Regions from separate parts of the Homo sapiens genome. Here all the other regions are linked to region 3. The links come from fine-mapping of genetic effects on gene expression. A gene starts in region 3. Each other region holds a variant in brackets. All regions are shown on one strand. Distances are from middle to middle. Region 1 has its middle 55 kb from the start of ACADSB. Region 2 overlaps ACADSB (acyl-CoA dehydrogenase short/branched chain). Region 3 holds the start of ACADSB (acyl-CoA dehydrogenase short/branched chain). Region 4 has its middle 26 kb from the start of C10orf120.

What was found. PIP is the estimated chance that this variant, and not a neighbour inherited with it, causes the effect.
Region 1: its variant is fine-mapped to the expression of ACADSB in whole blood (INTERVAL, PIP above 0.99).
Region 2: its variant is fine-mapped to the expression of ACADSB in skeletal muscle (FUSION, PIP 0.95).
Region 4: its variant is fine-mapped to the expression of ACADSB in cerebellar hemisphere (GTEx, PIP 0.97).

Annotation. Positions count from the first base shown.
Region 1 is chr10:123,061,899-123,066,936 of GRCh38, forward strand. No RefSeq gene overlaps it. Among named protein-coding and RNA genes, the nearest start is that of ACADSB, 55 kb to the left of the region's middle. The variant C/T (reference allele first, on the strand shown) is at 2,926.
Region 2 is chr10:123,037,764-123,042,798 of GRCh38, forward strand. It overlaps ACADSB (acyl-CoA dehydrogenase short/branched chain), which reads left to right. Exons shown (of 11, transcript NM_001609.4): 3 at 1-84; 4 at 2,703-2,909; 5 at 3,446-3,616. Among named protein-coding and RNA genes, the nearest start is that of ACADSB, 31 kb to the left of the region's middle. The variant TA/T (reference allele first, on the strand shown) is at 2,420.
Region 3 is chr10:123,006,858-123,011,895 of GRCh38, forward strand. ACADSB (acyl-CoA dehydrogenase short/branched chain) reads left to right here and starts at 2,149. Exons shown (of 11, transcript NM_001609.4): 1 at 2,149-2,214. The coding sequence starts at 2,173. IKZF5 (IKAROS family zinc finger 5) reads right to left here and starts at 1,938. Exons shown (of 5, transcript NM_001372123.1): 1 at 1,837-1,938; 2 at 169-319. RefSeq lists enhancers at 1,215-1,444, 1,725-2,054.
Region 4 is chr10:122,723,083-122,728,120 of GRCh38, forward strand. No RefSeq gene overlaps it. Among named protein-coding and RNA genes, the nearest start is that of C10orf120, 26 kb to the left of the region's middle. The variant G/A (reference allele first, on the strand shown) is at 2,803.

The DNA of each region.
Region 1 (5,038 bases), 55 kb after region 3:
TAAAATTAAAACAACCTACTAGGCTACTGATATCTTTTACTTTTGTGCATCATTCTCCCTTTAACTGATTTTTCTACTTTTCTCAAATAGCCACAGTGAAATCGGCAGCTCTATTCAGCCTCACGGGAGAGTAGACTCTGACATAGAGAGCACAGAAAAGAGATCTGAAACCTATGAAGGTTTGACCTCCCTAGGTAAATAGCACTGTTCAGGTTTAAATGCTTGTCCTAAGCAAAGCAATGCATGGCTTGCTTTGCCAAGCAGAACTTCACAGAGAGGGCTTTTTGCTTTCAGGTATAAATTGGGCCATTTGCACTGGCTTGGGATTGGGATCTTGTCTTTAGTTGTGATTTGATTTTCTATGATTTGACCCAGAGTATTCAAATGTAATATTTCCTTGAACATGAAGCATTTGCATTAAGGAAAAAGGAAAAATTCAAAACTTCTACTCAAGTCAAAGGACACAGGTCCTTTGTTTAAATTGGATGGACAAAGTATGGCCCATGGGCCAAATCCAAGCCACTGCCTATTTTCGTTATGGCCTACAAGCTAAGAATGTGTTTTTATGTTTTAAATGTTATATAGTTATGTACAGTATCCTCAATTTTGCCACTTTCCCACAAAGCCTAAAATGTTTACTCTCTAGCACCTTTAGGAAAAAGTTTTCCAACCCCTGATTAAATGATTGCCTCTAAATCAAATTTTGACTGAAAAGGTTGGTCAGTCTGTCTTGATGTCATACCGAAAGAAGAGAAAGAGAGAAGACTTCCCCTAGGAACTTGAGCCATTATTCTCTCTTGATTTTCTTTGTAGACTTTCTAGCCCTATGGGCTCCCTGCTACAACCTACAAACATGATTGTCTTCCCTTACCCGCAGTTTCAGTTACCTGCATCAACTGTGATCTGAAAATATTAAACAAAACTCCAGAAACAAACAACATACAAGTTTTAAATTGCACGTCGTTCTGAGTAGCATGATGAAATCTTGCACAATTCTGCTCCGTCCCAATAAGAACGTGAATCATCCCTTTGTCCAGCGTATCCATGTTGTCTGCTCTACCCCCTTCTTGGTCATCAACACTGTCTGCTCTTGACATCCCGCCATCTTCATTGTCATGCTTGGTGATCTAGGATCACACAAAGCAGAGGCTCCATCTTCTGAGACGTTGTCAGAAGGTCGATAGTGGCTGAATCACTAGTAGGCACATCACAGTGCCTACGCCATTCACACAACTTCATCCTATCCCATACACATTTTACCATCTCACACCATCACAAGAAGGGTGAGTATGACAATGAGACAATGAGAAAGAGAGAGACCACGTTCATATAACTTTTCTCTTTCTCTTTAGAACCAAAACAATGTTCTCAAAAGCCATCTTTTTACCTTTAATTGGTGGCCTATTATATTTGTCCCAATTTATATAGTTTCAGACACCCCTCATCTTCCTACAGGCTCTGCTCCTTTGACAAAGCACCTCCTCTTTTTCACTGACTCTTCGTTGGCTTCTTTGGCCTTAAATGGAAATTTTTTTATCAAGACTCTGCTATTGTGCCTCTTCATTCTCTATACAATTGGTTCTAAACCTCACTGTGCTTTTAGAATAACTCCAAGAGACCTCAAAGTGCACACTGTGGAATACTATTCCCAGAGTGTTCCAGTCATTGGCTATAGTGTTTATTTTTAGATCTATCTAGCAGGCTTTGGAAATTTATATTTATTTATTTATTTACTTTTGAGATGGAGTCTCACTCTGTCGCCCAGGCTGGAGTGCAGTGGTGCGATCTCGACTCACTGCAACCCCCACCTCCCAGGTTCAAGCAATTCTCCTGCCTCAGCCTCCTGAGTAGCTGGGATTACAGGTGCCCACCACCACGCCTGGCTAATTTTTGTATTTTTAGTAGAGATGGAGTTTCACCATGTTGGTCAGGCTGGTCTCGAACTCCTGACCTCATGATCCATCCGCCTCAGCCTCCCAAAGTGCTGGGATTACAGGCGTGAGCCACCGCACCTGGCTGGCTTTGGAAATTTATGTCTAAAATGCAGGTGAAGGATGAGAGTAGGAGACAGAGATCAGGAAGTCTTACGTAAGTCTGGTAGTATAAAGGTCAGATGAAGTACTCAGGAAGGACTGGTCATCTCCTGGGCTTTCTGCCCCCAGATCACTTGAGATGTCTGTAGAAAGGCACATTTCCTGACCTATGAGTCTTATCTTTGGGGCTGGGGCCTAGGAATCTGCATGTTTAGTAACCTGCCAAGGGATTTTCATCGCACACTAAGACTTGAGTAGTTGCTCAAAATGATTCCATCCCCAAAGTCCACGTTCCTTTCCAACTTCTCCCCAGCACCCCAGTCCAGCAGGACCAACGAGGTAAACCCCAAGCTCCCTAGAGACCCACCTGCTTAGTGAAGAAGCAGAAGGGGAGCAGGCGAGCCCCTTCCCTCCATCCTCCTGAGGTCAGAGGTCCTTGCGGATCCCCATTCACTCTCCCAGTGTGAGGCAGAGAAGCCAGGCACCAACTGTTCTCCGAGTTCGGTGGAACCAAAAGCAATTTAGGGCAATGTGTTCACAGTTCTCCACCCCAAAATAGGAGCCTCCATGGGGCTTGCTTTAATGAGATTTTACTTTATTAGTTCAAGAGTTAATGAAGAAACTGCTGATAAGATAAATCACCTTAGGTGCGGTGTTTTGAAATCTAACCATTTCTCTTAGAAATTGATTTTTTTTCCTTTTGGATATGCAAACTAATGATGAAGTCATAGTAGGGATGTAAGTTTTGGTGCCTTTGGAGGGTCAGGACGTCTGAAGGGAGAACATCTGGCTGAGTGGACAGCTCTTCGAGCCTTACCTTATTTTACATTCTGTCTATAACAGAAACCCATCGCTGTAAAATGTACATACAGTTCCTTTACGCATTAATACT[C/T]CATTGTACCAACCCTATTGATTTTTCCAAGTAGACAAAGGCTAAGGATATGTTTATTGATTGTTGCTCAGTGCATTTTAAGTGTATTTTGTAATAAAGAGCATTTTGAGACTGAAACAAACTTTCCCTTAACCAATGGGCAAGTTGAAATTTTAATTAAATGTTACTAAATATTTTTTGTAAAAAATAAGACTATTCACAATTCTACATTCAATGTCCATCAGCTAATGTAGAGAATTACAATCACGTGCCATGCATGTTACAACTAGACCTATGGAGTTAATATAATGTAGGAGTAATGGGAATTACTAATATTGCAAAATGTTGCTCAGGCACCATGTGAAACTGTTGGAAAGACAAGCCAACTCATGGAACTTCTGGAACTGACCATTGGAACACAAAAAGACAGAAGGAGGGAAGAGAAGCCAAACCCTGAAGAGCTTTGGTGGAATTACCTAATTTGGGGTAAAATAGAAAGAACCTTCTCTTTCCCCAGCCCCTTTCTGGAGCAGCCTCCAAAAAGGCTGAGAGTAGGTGCTGAGAAAACATATCTGTCAGACGGATGGCCAGATAGGAAGCCCTGTTTGGTTAGTGCTTTTTCTTTAAAGAGTAGCTGCATAATAATGATTTCTCTTTTCGTTTACTCATTGTCTTTATTCGAGTGGGGGCAGCTAAGATTTGCTTGGGGACATTAAAACATCATTTGGAAAATCAACCTTTGGTATTTGCCAGCTCATATTAGTGGATTTGCAGTTTGATAAACCACTTGGATAGAGGGGGTGCCATCCTTGTCTCAGGTACCTCACGTGGCTTGAAACGGTGTCCACACTGGAAGAAGACATGTCCTCCATCAAGGGCATCCATGAAAATTAATGAGTGGTCCAAAACAATTCGTAAGGAGGGTGAGTCGGTTTAACTCCAAATGTGGTTTCAGAGTGGAGTGTGGCACCTGGGTCCCAGTCACCAGTGGGCTGCCACCACTGGTTCCACCTCCAAAGTAATTTTTAAATCTGTCCAGTCTTTATTCTCCACTAACACCATAGTCTGATCTAAGATATGACTTCTCACTCAGAACAGCACAATAAGCCTCTCAACTGGCTTCCAGCTTCCACTATTCCCACTGTTCGATCCACTTTCTATCTAACAGCCTGAGACATTCTTTCAAATGTAAGCTGGATTATACTCCTCTTCCATCATTTCTCTAGAAATGTGCTGTTCAATACAATGGCCACCAGCCAGCCATGTGTGTCTATTTAAGTTATTTTTTGGTCTTTTGCTATTTTATTCGGAGGATTATTGCATATATATTCATAATGAGAGTCATCTATTCTTCTTCTTTATGCTTTTAATCAGATGTTGGTTTTGTATTGTATTTCTTTATAAAACAATTTGAGAAATTATCTATATTTTTATGATTTCAAATACCTATCTAAATTTAAATGAGTTAAAATTTTTAAAAATGAACAATCCTTTCCTTGGTTATACTAGCCATGTTTCAAGTGCTCATTAGTCACATGTGGCCAGTGGCGACCATGTTGGGCAGCACAGACATCTAGCATTTTTGTTTTACCTGAAAGTTCTGTCCATCTGTACTGCTCTTGAAGATGCAGCAGTTTCTCCCTCAAAGTAGTAGGTGGTGCCCAGAGCTCCTGACCAAGCAAGCTGTATGGTCTCTAAGAACTTTGGGCTTTGAAGGAGTATGGCAAGCTTAATTTGGGGAGCTACTACTTTTTTTTCCCTTTTCTCTTCTCCCTATTCAAGCGGGCTCCAACGATTCTTGCCTCCATTGAGGTTGGTGGCAGCACCTCCTGACTTTTGTCTAAAAGTCTAAATCCATAGAGAAGGACAAGGTTTGAAAGGAAAGGAGGAAATTAAGTCCCATGTGAAGAATAAGGCCTGAGGAGAGAAGAATTTTCCCCAAATTAAAGAGAAATTTCCCTAGGTTGGGGAAAGAGAGAGAGAGATGATCAGGTCCCATAAGTAGCCTAGACTAGCACCCCAAGGAAGTGCATCAGAGGGCAAGAGGGAATGGCATGGGGGACACCAGGAAGCTGGGTCCTGGGCAGAGCCCTCCAGCCTCGCGAAAGATGTTGGACCTCAGGCACATCCCAAA
Region 2 (5,035 bases), 31 kb after region 3:
GAACAAATTGCACCTTTGGTTTCAACCATGGATGAAAATTCGAAAATGGAGAAATCAGTAATACAAGGATTATTTCAACAAGGGGTACATTTCATAATTCTTCCACTTTCAAGCTTCTATAATTAAATTCAGGGACTGTAATGATAGCATAATGAACCCTGCATTTCCCAGTCAAAATTATCTGTTTTCTTTTTTTGGTTGAAATCCTACTTGATATTTATGTACTTAAAAGTTCTTAAAAATGGAATTAACATTTTTTAATTTGAAATACTGTATATTTTAAGGAAAAGTTTGGAAGTAAGATGGTAATTTATTTGTATCTTTAGACCAGCGGTTCTCAAATGGGGGCAGTTTTGCCCTCCAGGGGACATTGGGCAACGTCTAGGGACATCTTTGGTTGCCACAGCTAAGGCGTGCTACTGGCATCTAGTGGGATAGAGACAAGGGATGCCACTCAACATCCTGTAGTGCACAGGACAACTGCCACAACAAAGAATTATCCAACCCAATGCCACCATGAAGAAACCCTACTTTAGATAGTGAAACTTCATAGCATAGTTTATATTCTACCTGAAGCTCTATATAAGTGATAAACTTAGAAGCAGAGGTGATACATGAATTCCACATAAACCGGGCAACAGATTCCCATCTTCTCAAGTCACATAGCTCTTTAATGGAAATACAACGTATGAAATAGATACAAGTAAAACCGCTCTCACTGTGAGTAGGGGGAGGGGCTATTAGCATAGGGGCTTCTAGAAGAACATTTTAAAAATCACTGCACGCATCATTTCTCACTTCCGCAGAGGTATAAAATATATTTTTTTTAATTTTTAATACTAAAGATGTCCCAGAACAAGTGGCTGCTATTCAGAGCCATTGGCCTAAATCTTGTCTGCCATCTGGTTTGAAAAATAACCATTGCCACTTAGCTAGATAGTTTTATTTATTTCTGTTTTAAAGCAACCAGCTTTTTTATACCGTGTGTAGTAGTGATTCTTCCATCTTTCTTTTAGCAGTCAAACTCTTAGGAAACTGGAATCTTATGTGGAACCATAGTGGTCAAACAGGAGGCCGATGTGGAGAACAGATGGACTCTGTGAGTCCATTTCTCAGCCAGGTTTTATTTCTATTGCTTGCAGACCCTCTAGGCTTCTGGGAGCAGTCTCACGGTTTCACAGTGTGAGATCTCCCCCGCGGTGGTCGTTCCTGCAGCGGGGCTGTCTGCAGAGTGATGCATTGCCTGCACCCTGCTACTCATCTCCACAAACCACTCCTGTGCAGATGCAGCCTCACCTGCCTCCTCACTCCCATTGTCCTGGGTTTTTGGCATAATGGCTTGCAAAAACACTATTTCCACGTTGGGAGAGATTAGTGACTTTTTTAGAGAAGCAATGTCTCTGATATCTGTTCGAGTCATTGTAATGAGGTTTCCGGAGTGCCCTCCTCAGTTCTCAGGCAAACCCAGATCCTTCCGTTCTTCCTCGTTTCTGGTTTTCTCACCATTCAGTCGCTCGCATTTCTGGTTCCCTTTTCCTGTTGTAGCCCAAAATGTAACAGCCACAGCCCTGACTGCAGCATAGTGTGACTCCAGGAATGTCTAGAGAGAGACTAAGAGAATTATCCTTCTGTTAGCAGCTGTGGGTTTTGAATTACACATGCACACATTCTCTTTGTGAAATTGAGAGTACTATGTGAGTTTCAGTAACGATGGAACTGGGTCGTTGGAAAGGCTTGGCTGGCACTGGTCGTGTTTACCAGGCCCTCGTGCTTTGGCTAGTGTGGCTCTAGCAAACACCACCACATGTTCTCTGCTAACCATCCTGAACTTATGAAGTGGCGTAAAAGGAATGGTCATTCAATTATTAACTTGGCTGAAAAAGTCAAGGTGAAAGAGCCTGACTAGAAGAAACTTTGCCAAATGAAACTATAGACATCCCATTGAGGAGTAGGTTATTTTCTTCTGTTTCCTTATTACATTGAAATCAGCATAAGGTGGGTAGGGCATGTTGAAAAATCAAAACCCCACCTACCTGCTTTAAGCAGGCAACAACAGTTCTTAGCAAGAAAGGTCATCTAAGTATATAAGATATTTTCTCATTCCATTAAGCTACCCTTTAAAGCATTTTACCTCTCATTATTTTTTGAATCCCAAAAGGAAGCAAATGATAGCATATAATTTTATCCTTTTCAAATATACAGTTTCTGTTACAGATTTTTTTGTTACTTATGGCAAAATTGCTATACCAAATTAAAATAAAATATAAATACAAAATTTTAAAATTAAGAATAATTATGGTGGCTGGGTACAGTCGCTCACGCCTGTAATCCCAACACTTTGAGAGGTTGAGGTGGGTGGATCACCTGAGGTCAGGGGTTCGAGACCAGACTGGCCAACATGGCGAAACCCCATCTCTAC[TA/T]AAAAAAAAAAAAAAAAATTAGCTGGGTGTGATGGTGGGCACCTGTAATCCCAGTGACTTGGGAGGCTGAGGCAGGAGAATTGCTTGAACCCAGGAGGTGGAGGTTGCAGTGAGCTGAGATTGCGCCATTGCACTCCAGCCTGGGAGACGGAGCAAGACTGTCTCAAAAAAAAAATAATAATAATAAATATGGTTACAGTTTATTTTTTAACTTGTTCATGCAAGAAATTTCCCCATATAAAAATAGCTTTCTTAATCTATGTTGCCTTGTTTTTTCTTTAGTTGATGGGTATTGAAGTTGACCCAGAATATGGAGGCACAGGAGCTTCATTTTTATCCACTGTGCTCGTGATAGAGGAATTAGCCAAAGTTGATGCATCTGTGGCTGTCTTTTGTGAGATCCAGAACACATTAATTAACACACTGATTAGAAAACATGGAACAGAAGAACAAAAGGCCACCTATTTGCCTCAGCTCACTACAGAAAAAGTGAGTTGAGATGAATTGTTGATCTAATGGATCTAATCTTTAGTAAGTTTACAATATTTTCAGGAAAAAAGTAGCTGCAATGTCGACTTTACTATCCAAGACCACAATGCGGTATCATTAATTCAAGCAATGCTTGATAAATTAATGCTGCTGGAAAAGTACACTCTACCTCTTATTTGCCAGTTGGAAATTTAGAAAATAATCATCAGATAATAAAATTATTTCTTTTTGTCCTGATTATATTTTCTAATACGTTTGTTGATGGTTTCATTTACGTTGTGATGTCTTTCTGCTGTAATTATTCAAATCAATTTCAATGAGTATGTGTTCGTGAGTCTTTAAATTTGTCTTGGACAAATAGGGTATATTTTTTGGAAAATAATACTTTCAGAATACCATTGCTATTTTCATAAATATAGGCTTTTTAAAAAAGCAGCTAAAGATTTGATTTACAAATGTCCATTTTTCCATAAGTATTTGTTATACAGAGTATAAATACAGTTATTAATTTGGACATTTTTTTCTCCCATATGTAGGTAGGAAGTTTCTGCCTTTCAGAGGCTGGAGCAGGTAGTGACTCATTTGCTTTGAAGACCAGAGCTGATAAAGAGGGAGATTATTATGTCCTCAATGGATCAAAGATGTGGATCAGCAGTGCTGAGCACGCAGGGCTCTTTCTGGTGATGGCAAATGTAGACCCTACCATTGTAAGTTTGAAAACGAAATTTCTTTCTTTTTCCAAACCCCTTCTTTTCTCTTTCTTTATCTTTTCCTCCTTCTGTTTCCTTTTTAGGACTTCATCTTGAACTCTTTAGTCTTCTCAGTACTGAAAATGTCAGACTTGAGCTGGCATTTTTTCACTTCGTTAATCTCCTAAAGTAAATATTGTTGACAAAATTATTAATTAGAATTGGCCCACCATATCTGTGGATTCAACCAACTCTGGATTGAAAATATTTGATTAAAAAAAAATTCTGCAAAGTTCCAAAAAGTAAAACTTGAATTTGCTTTGTGCCAACTACCATATTGAATTCACGTGAATAAAGTGACATGCATGTATTATGTTAGGTATCAGATAATCTAGAGATGATTTAGAGTCTACCGGAGCATGTGCATAGGTTATATGCAAATATTACACCATTTTATGTAAGGTACTTGAGCACTGTCAGATTTTGGTATCCATGGGGGTCCTGGAACCACTCCGCCACAGATATGGAGGGATGACTGTTTGTGGAGGACCAACTGTTACTTAGCTCCTAATGGGTTATGTAGGAAGCTAATCTTTTTTCTTTTCTTTTTTTTTTTTTTTTTAATATGGAGTCTCGCTGTATCTCCTAGGCTGGAGTGCAGTGGTGTGATCTCACCTCACTGCAACCTCCTCCTCCTGAGTTCAAGCGATTCTCCTGCCTCAGCCTCCCAAGTATATGAGACTACAGGTGTGCACCACCACGCACAGCTAATTTTTGCATTTTTTGTAGAGACAGAGTTTCGCCATGTTGGCCAGGCTGGTCTCAAACTCCTGACGTCGGATGATCTGCCTGCCTCGGCCTCCCAAATTGCTGGGATTATAGGCGTGAACCACTGCACCTGGCCCTAATCTTTAATTTTGTTGAATTTCCAATTTCTGTTTAGTAATGAAGAATTTAAGTACCTATTTAGTACATTTATTTTTAAGAATATTTTATTCAGTTGGAAAATAGACATATAGCAAAATAATAAATACATTTTTTCACCAGTAAATACAGTATTTTCACTAATGTAACAATTGAATTAAATTGTTAAAACTTTTTTTTTTTTTTTTTTTTGAGACGGAGTTTCGCTCTAGTTGCCTAGACTGGAGTGCAAGGCTGTGATCCCAGCTCACTGCAACCTCCGCCTTCTGGGTTCAAGCAATTCTCCTGCTTCAGCCTCCTGACGGGTGCCTGCCACCACACCCAGCTAATTTTTGTATTTTTAGTAGAGACGTTTTTTCACCATGTTGGCCAGGCTGGTTTCAAACCCCTGACCTCAGGTAATCCGCCCGACTCAGCCTCCGAAAGTGCTGGGATTACAGGCATGAGCCACCGCACCTGGCCTAAAACTTTATATAGTAAAATTAAATTGAGAACATGACATTCTCATGATTA
Region 3 (5,038 bases):
CCTTCCAAAATAATTGGAACACAATTCCTGATTTCAGAACTGTCAAAAACTCTTGAAGGCAAAAAAAGAAATTATGAGGCTCTGAGAAATCAGAAATCAAAACATAAAAATAAAACATAAGTAAAACCATGTTGAAAGAAATCCAGAAGAGAAATTATACAATCTAACCTTTTCACCCCAAATCTGTTCCTCCTTTTTCTTGCCACTCCAACATTGATGAAATGTAGAGTAATTGAAATTTACTTCGGAGATACAGCAAGGGACTCCAAAAGGCCATGGAGAGAGAATTTCAACTAAAATTGAAAAGCCATACAGAGGTCTGCATAAAAAACAAACAGCACACCACAAATCAAAACCTTTAAGATAAAAACTTAATTAGCATCTACAGGTTGAATGAGCTAGTAACTTATGCCAATCTTATCATTACATTAGCTGAAAAGAAAACGAACTGACAGATTAATCAAAGAACAAAGCAGTAGCTTCACTTCAGCAAAAGCTCCATAGGATCACCAAAGAATAACTGGTGTGACTACCGTTTTCTCACTGGTGGATTAGTTTTTGGCAAGATTTTTAATGTCTAAATTTAAGTTAAACTTCAGTTTAAAGAAATTAAGATTAACTTCATTTAGTCACAGCACACTTCCAAAACGGTCAAGCTTAGTACTGCTGAACAGCTGTAGTTGCATAAAAACAACGCATAGTCCTAAGTAGGGAAATGGGAAAGGGCTTTAAATACAAAAACAAAAAAAACATGCACACCCGATAAGGGCACATCTGAATCCCATCCTTCTTATCCTATCATAACACAAAACAGCTACGGTTTTCTGGGAAACATCCTGGACCGCTAGGGGAAAATAACACCAGACATTTCAATTCACTGTAACGAACTCTCATCAATAATAATAACCTTTAGCTGTTGTGACAACACGACATAAATCAAAATTAAATTGAATTTTTAAAATTGTTAGTTCCTACGTTTAAAAAAAAGTTGTTTTAAATACATTCTGTTCTTTCAAAACTGAATTTCCTCAGATCACACAATTTAAGACGCCTTTATGTCTTCTTCCGCTTGTCACACGTCTTTCGGGTTCTGACCAGCACATCAAGGGGACTCTAAGCAGGCCACGTGGTTAGTGTTTGCTAGAACTTGTTTAGCTTCAGATCCAGTCATCGAGCATGCTAGGCTTGGCTACTCGCGCTCCACACAGTTTATCCAAAGATCTAAACCCCGAATGAACCTGAATAGTTATTTGCTACAATGTCTTTCTCAAATCTCACATGTTCCTAAAATAAGGGTGCCCATGCAGTAGAGACGGATCCGGGCAGGATCATTAGATAAAATACGAAGGCTTTAAACGTCCTTCTCCCAACAATCAGCCTGGGACCGGCGTCGGGGCAGCAGCCTCACCAAGATTCGGAGCGACATCCTCGCCAGGATTCGAAACACCTAGGAGACCCGCGCCCGGCTGACTCCCAGCCCCTGGGACCCCGTGAAGACGCAAACCTCGGGACGCCTCCCGCAGAACCACCTGTCAGAGCCAAGCAACAGTCCCCGCCCCGGAGCCTCCGAGCTCCTGCTCGAAGGCAATGACAGCAGGAGACCCCGCTCCCTCGGGGTTCTCGCGGCCATAGGCGCCGCAGTCCACTGCCCTCCGGCTAAAGAGGTCCCGGGCCATCACCTGCCCGCCTACCGACCACGCCCGACCCTCCACTGAACTGAGTCTCCGTCCGGATCAGCCGGCCCGCCACGAACCCAGCTCCAGTCTCCGGCCGCTCCTTCTTATCCGCCCTGTCCTGCCGCGTCGCCGCCGTCCGAGCCGGCAGCCTGCTACTTACCTCCTGACAACTGCATGGAGTAAACCACACCGCCTTGTTAAATGCCGTCGCCGCCGCCGCCGTCTTCGTCACCGTCACAGTCGCCGCCGCCATCTTTGTTGTGTCTCCGACTCCCTTCCCGCCCCCCTGCCTTGCTCAAGTCTCGCGTGAGCAGGATGGAGGGCGAAAGCGAGGAGGGGCCTGTTTGTCTCTCTTGGGGTTCCGTAGGCAGCAGGGGGCAGGGATTAAGGGGGGGTGTGTGCGGGGCGGGTACTGAGTGGGCGGGGCCTTGCTCGGGTAACTCCCAGGGGCTGGCTAGAGACCCAGAGGCGCAGAGCGGAGAGGCCTGCGGCGAGGATGGAGGGCCTGGCAGTGCGGTTGCTGCGCGGCAGCAGGCTGGTGAGTGCGTTCGAGGCTGGCGTCCTGGGGGCCCAGGGCGACCTTGGCCCCTGGAATCGCAGCTGGCAGAGCCTTCTAACGGGCCTCGGGGCGCCGGCCTGAGCCCCGCTCCACGTCCTGGGTCCCCAGACTCTTTACCCGCGGGCAGTCTATGACCCCGACCCCCTTCAGGCCTCTGGTGGAGGCAGCTGGTGGCAAGGGGGTCGGGGCTGTCTAGAAGCTGCTTTGGCGGAGCAAGTACCTTGAGTGGAGTCGGAGGGTCGCGTCCGCAAGATGTCCTTTGCAGGCCGTTGCGTCCTGAGAGCCACCGAGTCTGGATCTCTGGATCTCTGGATGCATTTTGCACAGATGTCACCTCCCTGATGCCCTAACGCACCTTTCCCGAGTGATTACATTTCACACCCCCTCCCCCAAAAAAGATAGTTAAAATATAGGCCCAGTCTCATTCTGAGCAGGTGTCTCCCTGTCCTTCCTTCCGCGGCCCCGCTCAAAGGTAGTAAGGGACTTCGGAGTTGTTCGGGCTTCCCGGCCAGGGACAGAGTTCCCTCTGCCCCTTATCTCATGTCTGGAGCCTGGGTATCTTCCGTGGATAGACTCACCGCCGCCCAGGGGAGCCGGAGCCGGTGCCGGTCCCTCTTCCATGAACTTAAGCTGAAACCAGCCTCTTGTTGTGCTTAATTCTTATCTGTGCACCCACACAAACTGTTAACAGCCCCTGTGTTAACATCCTATGCTCTTCACCCCTTGGACCTATTATATAGCATGCTTTTCAGAACATACACATTTGGATACACTTGTATTTGTCAGTACACTTCACTGGGAATTTTCCCACTGCTTACGTGTGCTTTTAATGTTTCCTTTGCATTTGCTTTAATGAGTTAGGCTTTCCAACTGCTGCTTCAGTCTTATGCCCAGAGGCAGAACTCTGACCCTTTTTCTTATTAGAGATAATTAATGTTATTTGACTGTTTTACAGGCCTGAAGTGCAATAAAAAACAGTAAGTGATTATTGTTTAATACTGTTTATAATTGTTGGTTAATAACTTAGCAAAGAAAATTTCTTTGGTTTTACAATTTGACTCTGTTTTAGAGCCAAAATTTATTGACCGCATACTCTGTGGTAGGCACGTTCTCGTTCTACCTGAGTCATCTCAATTCTCACAACCATCTTAACAAGTAGTTTAATCTTGCAGATGCTGAAAAAGAATAATAGCTTGCCCACAGATAGAAAGGGATAGAGCTGGTGGTATTCGAACTCTGGTCTGATTCTAAACTTAACCTTCATATACTACTGTCTCCCCGTCCTTAGAGATATCAAAAACCTATTTTGTTTGAACTTTTGGTTTATTGTGGCTTATAGTCCTTTATAGTTTTTGAAGCTCTTTTACATAAATTAGCTAAATTGATTGAACATCGACTGTAGCATAGTGGTTAAGAACGTAGGTTCTGTAGCTAGGCTGCTTGGATCTGAACCCAGGCCCTCTCACTTCCTAGTGGTATAACCTTGGACAGGTTATGCTTTGGGTCTCAGTTTCCTGGTCTGTAAATGGAGAGAATAATTGTGCGTATTCCAAAATTGTTGTGAAAATTAAATGAGCTCATATGTTCATGTAAGGCACTTAGAATAGTGCTCGGAATGTAGTCAGCTCTCGGTAAATATCAGCTCTTACTGCCATGCACGAAGCATTGTGTGCTATGCCAGATGTAATAATGAATAAAATACTCTACCTCCAAGAAGTTTATCTTTTAGAGGAAAGGTTAGAACTATGTGCAACTAACCCCATGTCATGTAGGTGTGGAACAAATCCTAAGGGGCTACAGTCTGCGTGCAGATTCAGAAGATAGAAATGACTAGGACCATTGGGGAAGTGATAGGCTCTTTGGAAGCTGGGTTAGAGTTTAGGAGGGGAAAGGAGTGGTCAGAAAACTGCAACAAAAGGGGACTGAGGCCACTTTAGGGAATTGGGGGTTGATCCTTTTGGATTGTTAGGAGCCATTGAAGGTCAAGAGCTTTGGAGTTTCCTCATGCCACAGTGTAGGTAGATGGCTGTGGACACAAGTGGCATGGAGTGGGGAGAAATGCAAGGTAGGGCTAATTTTGGTTTCTATCCAGAGGCAAATGGAAAGCTAGCATTTACTCACTTATTGTAGACCAGGGACAGCATTTTACACCCACTACCCTATTTACTCTTCCTGTAAACCTCTGAAGTAGGTATATTAGTGGCTTCATCTTGCAAATGAGGAACTCGGAGGCAATAACCAGTGTTCCCAAGTCACATAACAATCAGATTGCAATGCTGACCTTCAGCCTACCCCTGCCTTCTCAGAAGGTCTCTCCTAGTCCTGCAGATGGATTAGAACTGTCCTGCCCATTTGGTCTAAGCAACCCAATTAGTGGAGAATTGGACCTTGTAGTTAACCTGTGGTTCCAAAGCATTTTAATGTAGCTTGATATCTTTTTTTTTTTTTTTTTGAGACGGAGTCTTACTCTGTCGCCCAGGTTGGAGTGCTGTGGTGCGATCTCAGTTCACTGTAACCTATGCCACCCGGATTCGAGCGATTCTCCTGCCTCAGCCTCCCGAGTAACTGGGATTACAGGCGCCTGCCACCTTGCCTGGCTAATTTTTGTAGTTTTAGTACAGATGGGGTTTCACCATCTTGGTCAGCAAGATGGAAATGGTCTCAAACTCCTAACTTCATGATCCACCCGCCATGGCCTCCCAAAATGCTGGGATTACAGGCGTGAGCCACCACACCAGGCCGCTTGATGTCTTTTAAGAGATGATTTTTTTTTTTTTTAGACAAGTTTTCACTCTCTTGCCCA
Region 4 (5,038 bases), 280 kb before region 3:
TCAGAATGAACCTCGGTCATCTCTGCCCCGCTCTCCCAGGCTCCTTCCCTTACCTGAAATGTATTGCTACTCTTGGGAAGTGGAATCAGTCTATGATTTAATTTCTTTGGAATCAAGTTCCCAGAGGATTTTAGACAGACGGAAGGACCCAAAATAGACAATTCTCAATCTGCAATGAGTTTAATGATTTCTGGGAGCCGGAAAGAAAACCACCCCCAAATTCAGTGTTTCTCTTAAGGCTACACCCTGATAACTACTAATCTATTGGGAACAGCAGAGAAAGGGTCCCTTGAAGCAAACATCAGCCTCATTCTGGTCCCAGCTGTCCCGAATCCCTTCTCCCTCACATCACTGTGAAAATCCAATTCCCAATGGAAAAAGGGTCCAAATGAGGACTGCTATTACACTGGGCACTTTCATAATCCAGTTCCAACAATATTCAGCTCTCCTCTTCCCTGCCTTATTCTGCTTTCTTTGAAATTTGCAAGCTTACCACCAAATACCAGAGCATTTCCCAGGCTGAGGGCACATGCTGCTCTGCTCTGGGCCCATTACTTAGCACAGTGGTTGGCAGAGTAGAGAACGCTCCATCACTAGTTTGAAAAAATGAACAAAACACAATGAGCGAGAACATCACACCGTTAGCTGATCTCCACTTGTGAGATCCTTTTCAAAATAACAACAACAGGATTATGAGGCTTTTTCCCCCGAGTGGCTGCAAATCTAGGGATATTTGAGAGGCTCAGGTAATCTTACAGACACCATTGGCAAGTCTCAGTTATCAGTGGGGCCATTTTCTTGCCAGCTTCCTGGTGCCTCCTTCATCTTTGCCCCTTTTCCAACCCTTTTGTGCCCACCTGTACTGTCACTGCACCTCTCCCCCAAGATGCGGACATTGCCCCAGAGTTTATGGAGGGGGTGCTCTTCAGCTTCCAGGAACTCATGGATTAGTGATACGATATGACCCAATAGGCTTTTCTAGGCTCCTGGTGCTGATTGCACAAGAGTCTTACAGACAATGGGGCCAGTGAGACCATCTGGAAACAACCACCCAGGGACACCACTGCAGTTCCATGCAGGTCACTTTGATACTAGAAGAGATTTGTGGAACTGGCAGACTATTGGAGTGCAGTTGATATTAGGGTGATTCACATGAAAAGTGAGGACAAAGGGGGAACTTGTTGACCACCAGAGAGAGAAAGACAATTTCTGATAACGCAATTGTTCCCTGGCACAGAATTTATCTAATCAACACAATCCTAGTGAAATCATTAAAAAGTCTCTATAAACCCCATTATGATCAATTTACAATCCATTCAGCTGTGTGCACTGCTCTGCCTGGACCCCACACTGACCACAACCCCTCCTTTTCTCACCCCCACAGACCCCACCCAGGCTCTCAGCCCTGCCGCTGCCTCCTCAGACAGGGACTCCCAGCCCTGGCACCAAGGTCAGCTGGAAATTCCAGGTGTCAGATCACAGCTGGATCTGCAGAACTGCCCTGTGATCCCAAGCACCTCTGGCCAAATGCTCAGCAGAAAGCACACCGCCTAGCCCTGTTGCAAGGCCTGCAGCCCTGAGAGCCACTCTGTACACATGCACACTCACACCCACCACTCACATTCGTTCACATACACACACTCACACAAATACACCTCTCACTCACACCCACCACTCACATTCATTCACATACACACACACCATTCACTCACACTCACACCCACCACTCACATTCATTCACATACACACACACCACTCACTCACACTCACACCCACCACTCACATTCATTCACGCACACACCACTCACACTCACACTCACCACTCACATTCATTCACATACACACACACCACACACACCACTCACATTCATTCACATACACACACCACTCACTCACACACCCACCACTCACACACTCACCACTCTCATTCACATACACACACCACACACTCACACCACTCATATTCATTCATATACACACACACCACTCACACTCACACCCACCACTCACTTTCATTCACATACACACCATTCACACACACTCACACCTACAACTCACATTCATTCACACACACCACTCACACTCACACCTACCACTCACATTTATTCACACATGCACCACTCACACTCACCATTCACATTCATTCACATTCACACACACCACTCACACACTCACCACTCACATTCATTCACATACACACACACCACTCACACTCACACCCATCACTCACATTCATTCACATACACACCATTCACACACACTCGCACCTACCACTCACATTCATTCACACACCCACCACTCACACTCACACTCACCACTCACATTCATTCACATACACACACACCACTCACACACTCACCACTCACATTCATTCACATACACACACACCACTCACATTCGCACCCACCACTCACATTCATTCACACACACAGCACTCACACTCACACCTACCACTCACATTCACACACACCACTCACACACTCACCACTCACATTCATTCACATACACACACCACTCACTCACACTCACACCCACCACTCACATTCATTCACATACACATACACCATTCACACACACTCACACACATCACTCACATTTATTCGCACGCACACACACACACTGTCTTTCATACCACTCACATTCATTCACATACACACACACCCATCACACTCACCAGTCACATTCATTCACATACACACTTACACTCACCACTCACACACACTCACCACTCACATTCATTCACATACACTCTCACACATTTATTCACAATGTCTCACACACACACACACACTCACCACATAC[G/A]ACCAACCTGTTTCATTCACTCCGCCTCCTTGATCCTATCCCAAAGCCCTGCCCTCCTCAGCCCCTGCCCTCAGTGCTGCCCTCTCCTGACTGAGCTACCAGTTATCTCCTTGCCTAGTCTTAAATCTTCCCTAATTCCTGGCTCCTTATCTCTTATTGTAAATATTCCCCTGAACACTACAAAACAGACCAAACGCTCCCTCAGACCACCTGCCCAGCACCCGACACCACCTCCCTACCTGAGGCCACCCTGGACATTCCGCAGGGTGCACTGCAGCAGCCTGGGAGGGAGAGTGACTTCAGCCCTGGGGGATACATGGGCAGTGTGTCTGCATCTCAGCTTACTCCAGATTGAGAAGAGGTTGACTTTCTACATCAAAGACCAGGAGTTGGGTTTCAGTCACCCTGCCAAGCCCCTCATGGAAATTCCGCTTGCTTCACATCCAAGATTTCTAGCGGAGTTGGTCCTGACTTCTTATTCTCACCCCTTACTTCCTAACCCAGTCACCCTGGTTTCACTTCAACTCCTTTCTGAAGCTGCTCTTTTTTTTTGAGACTGAGTCTTGCTCTGTCACCCAGGCTGGAGTGCAGTGGTGCGATCTCGGCTCACTGTAAGTTCTGCCTCCCAGGTTCACGTCATTCTCCTGCCTCAGCCTCCCGAGTAGCTGGGACTACATGCGCCCACCACCACGCCTGGCTAATTTTTTTGTATTTTTAGTGGAGATGGGGTTTCACCATGTTAGCCAGGATGGTCTCAATTTCCTGACCTCGTGATCCGCCTGTCTCGGCCTCCCAAAGTGCTGGGATTACAGGTGTGAGCCATCACACCCAGCCTGAAGCTGCTCTTTTTAAGACACAATGGTACTGGCCTTTGATTGCCAATCCAGTGGCATCAGCAGCCTCTGTCTTGTCAGCTCCCCCACAGCAGGCCACACTGACAGCTGTCCCTGTGCCCAGACCCTCACTCTCCCTTGGCCCTGTGGCAGTGACAATGGTCAGATGAAAGCTCTTGTATCTAACCAGAAAGAGTTGGAAACCAGTTTTTAAAAGTGGTTATGTTTATGCTGTGTTTATGTGCACTAGCCAAATACCTCCTCTCTCACCAAAGTTACCTCTAAAGCACAAATCCAAAAATGTAAAATTAATTAATTTTACTTAAATAACCCCCCAAAAGAAAAAAATACATAATAAAAATAAAAACAGGAAAAAACACAAAAAGGGAAAAATGCCTGAAAAAGGACAAACCCATGCGATATTAGAACACATCAAATGAACTAAAAAGCATGGTTGAATTTATGTGTAAATTGTAGCTTACTTAAAGCAAATGCCATGATTAAGTACAGATAGCTAAAGATGTGTAATAAAGTATACAGGCTGACATAAAATTGGAAAAACTGGTACAAACATATACTTGATTAAAAGGAAGAGTCATAAAACCAACTACACACCAAGGCAAGATCTTAAGAAGAAGTGATTGCAGGACATGGGTTTCCAAGCTCAGCTGCACAACAGAATCCCGTGGACTGTCGACCATTCAGATTCCCAGGCCCCCTCTGCTGCAGCTGTGAGCCAGTGGGTTTGGGGTGGGGCCCGTGAGGCCACTGTCTTAGGCCACACTCAGGATCCCTGCTGGGTTGTAACGTGTCTGATGCATCTCAGTTTGCTACAGGAAAAATGTGGGAGGATCCAGAGGAAGGCTGTGGAACCCATGCTCTGAGAGAAGCACTGTCCAAGGTACACCTGCGACTCAGCAAGAAGGTGAGTCACAGCCAGACATTCCCCTTGGCCTTGAGGAGGAGGGGCCGCGGGCAGGTGGGACCTGAAGGGCAGAGGGTGTGACTGTCCCCAGGAATGGACAGTCCCCACCCAGCCAGGCAAGTCACACATCTCCACAAAGAATGACATCCCAGTTTTATTTCTGCTTAACAAGACAAGGATGCCCTCAGATCTTTGTTTAACTTCATGGTTCTTATACATTAAAGACTGACTTTGGCCGGGCATCATGGCTCACATCTGTAATCCCAACACTTTGGTAGGCCGAGGCTGGCGAATCACTTGAGGTCAGGAGTTCAAGACCAGCCTGGCCAACATGGTGAAACCCCATCTCTACTAAAAATACAAGAAAAAAAAAATTTGCCTGGTGTGGTGGTGCGTGCTTATAATCCCAGCTACTTGAGAGTCTCAGGAAGGAAAATCACTTGAACCCCGGAAGGAGAGGTTGCAATGAGCCGAGATT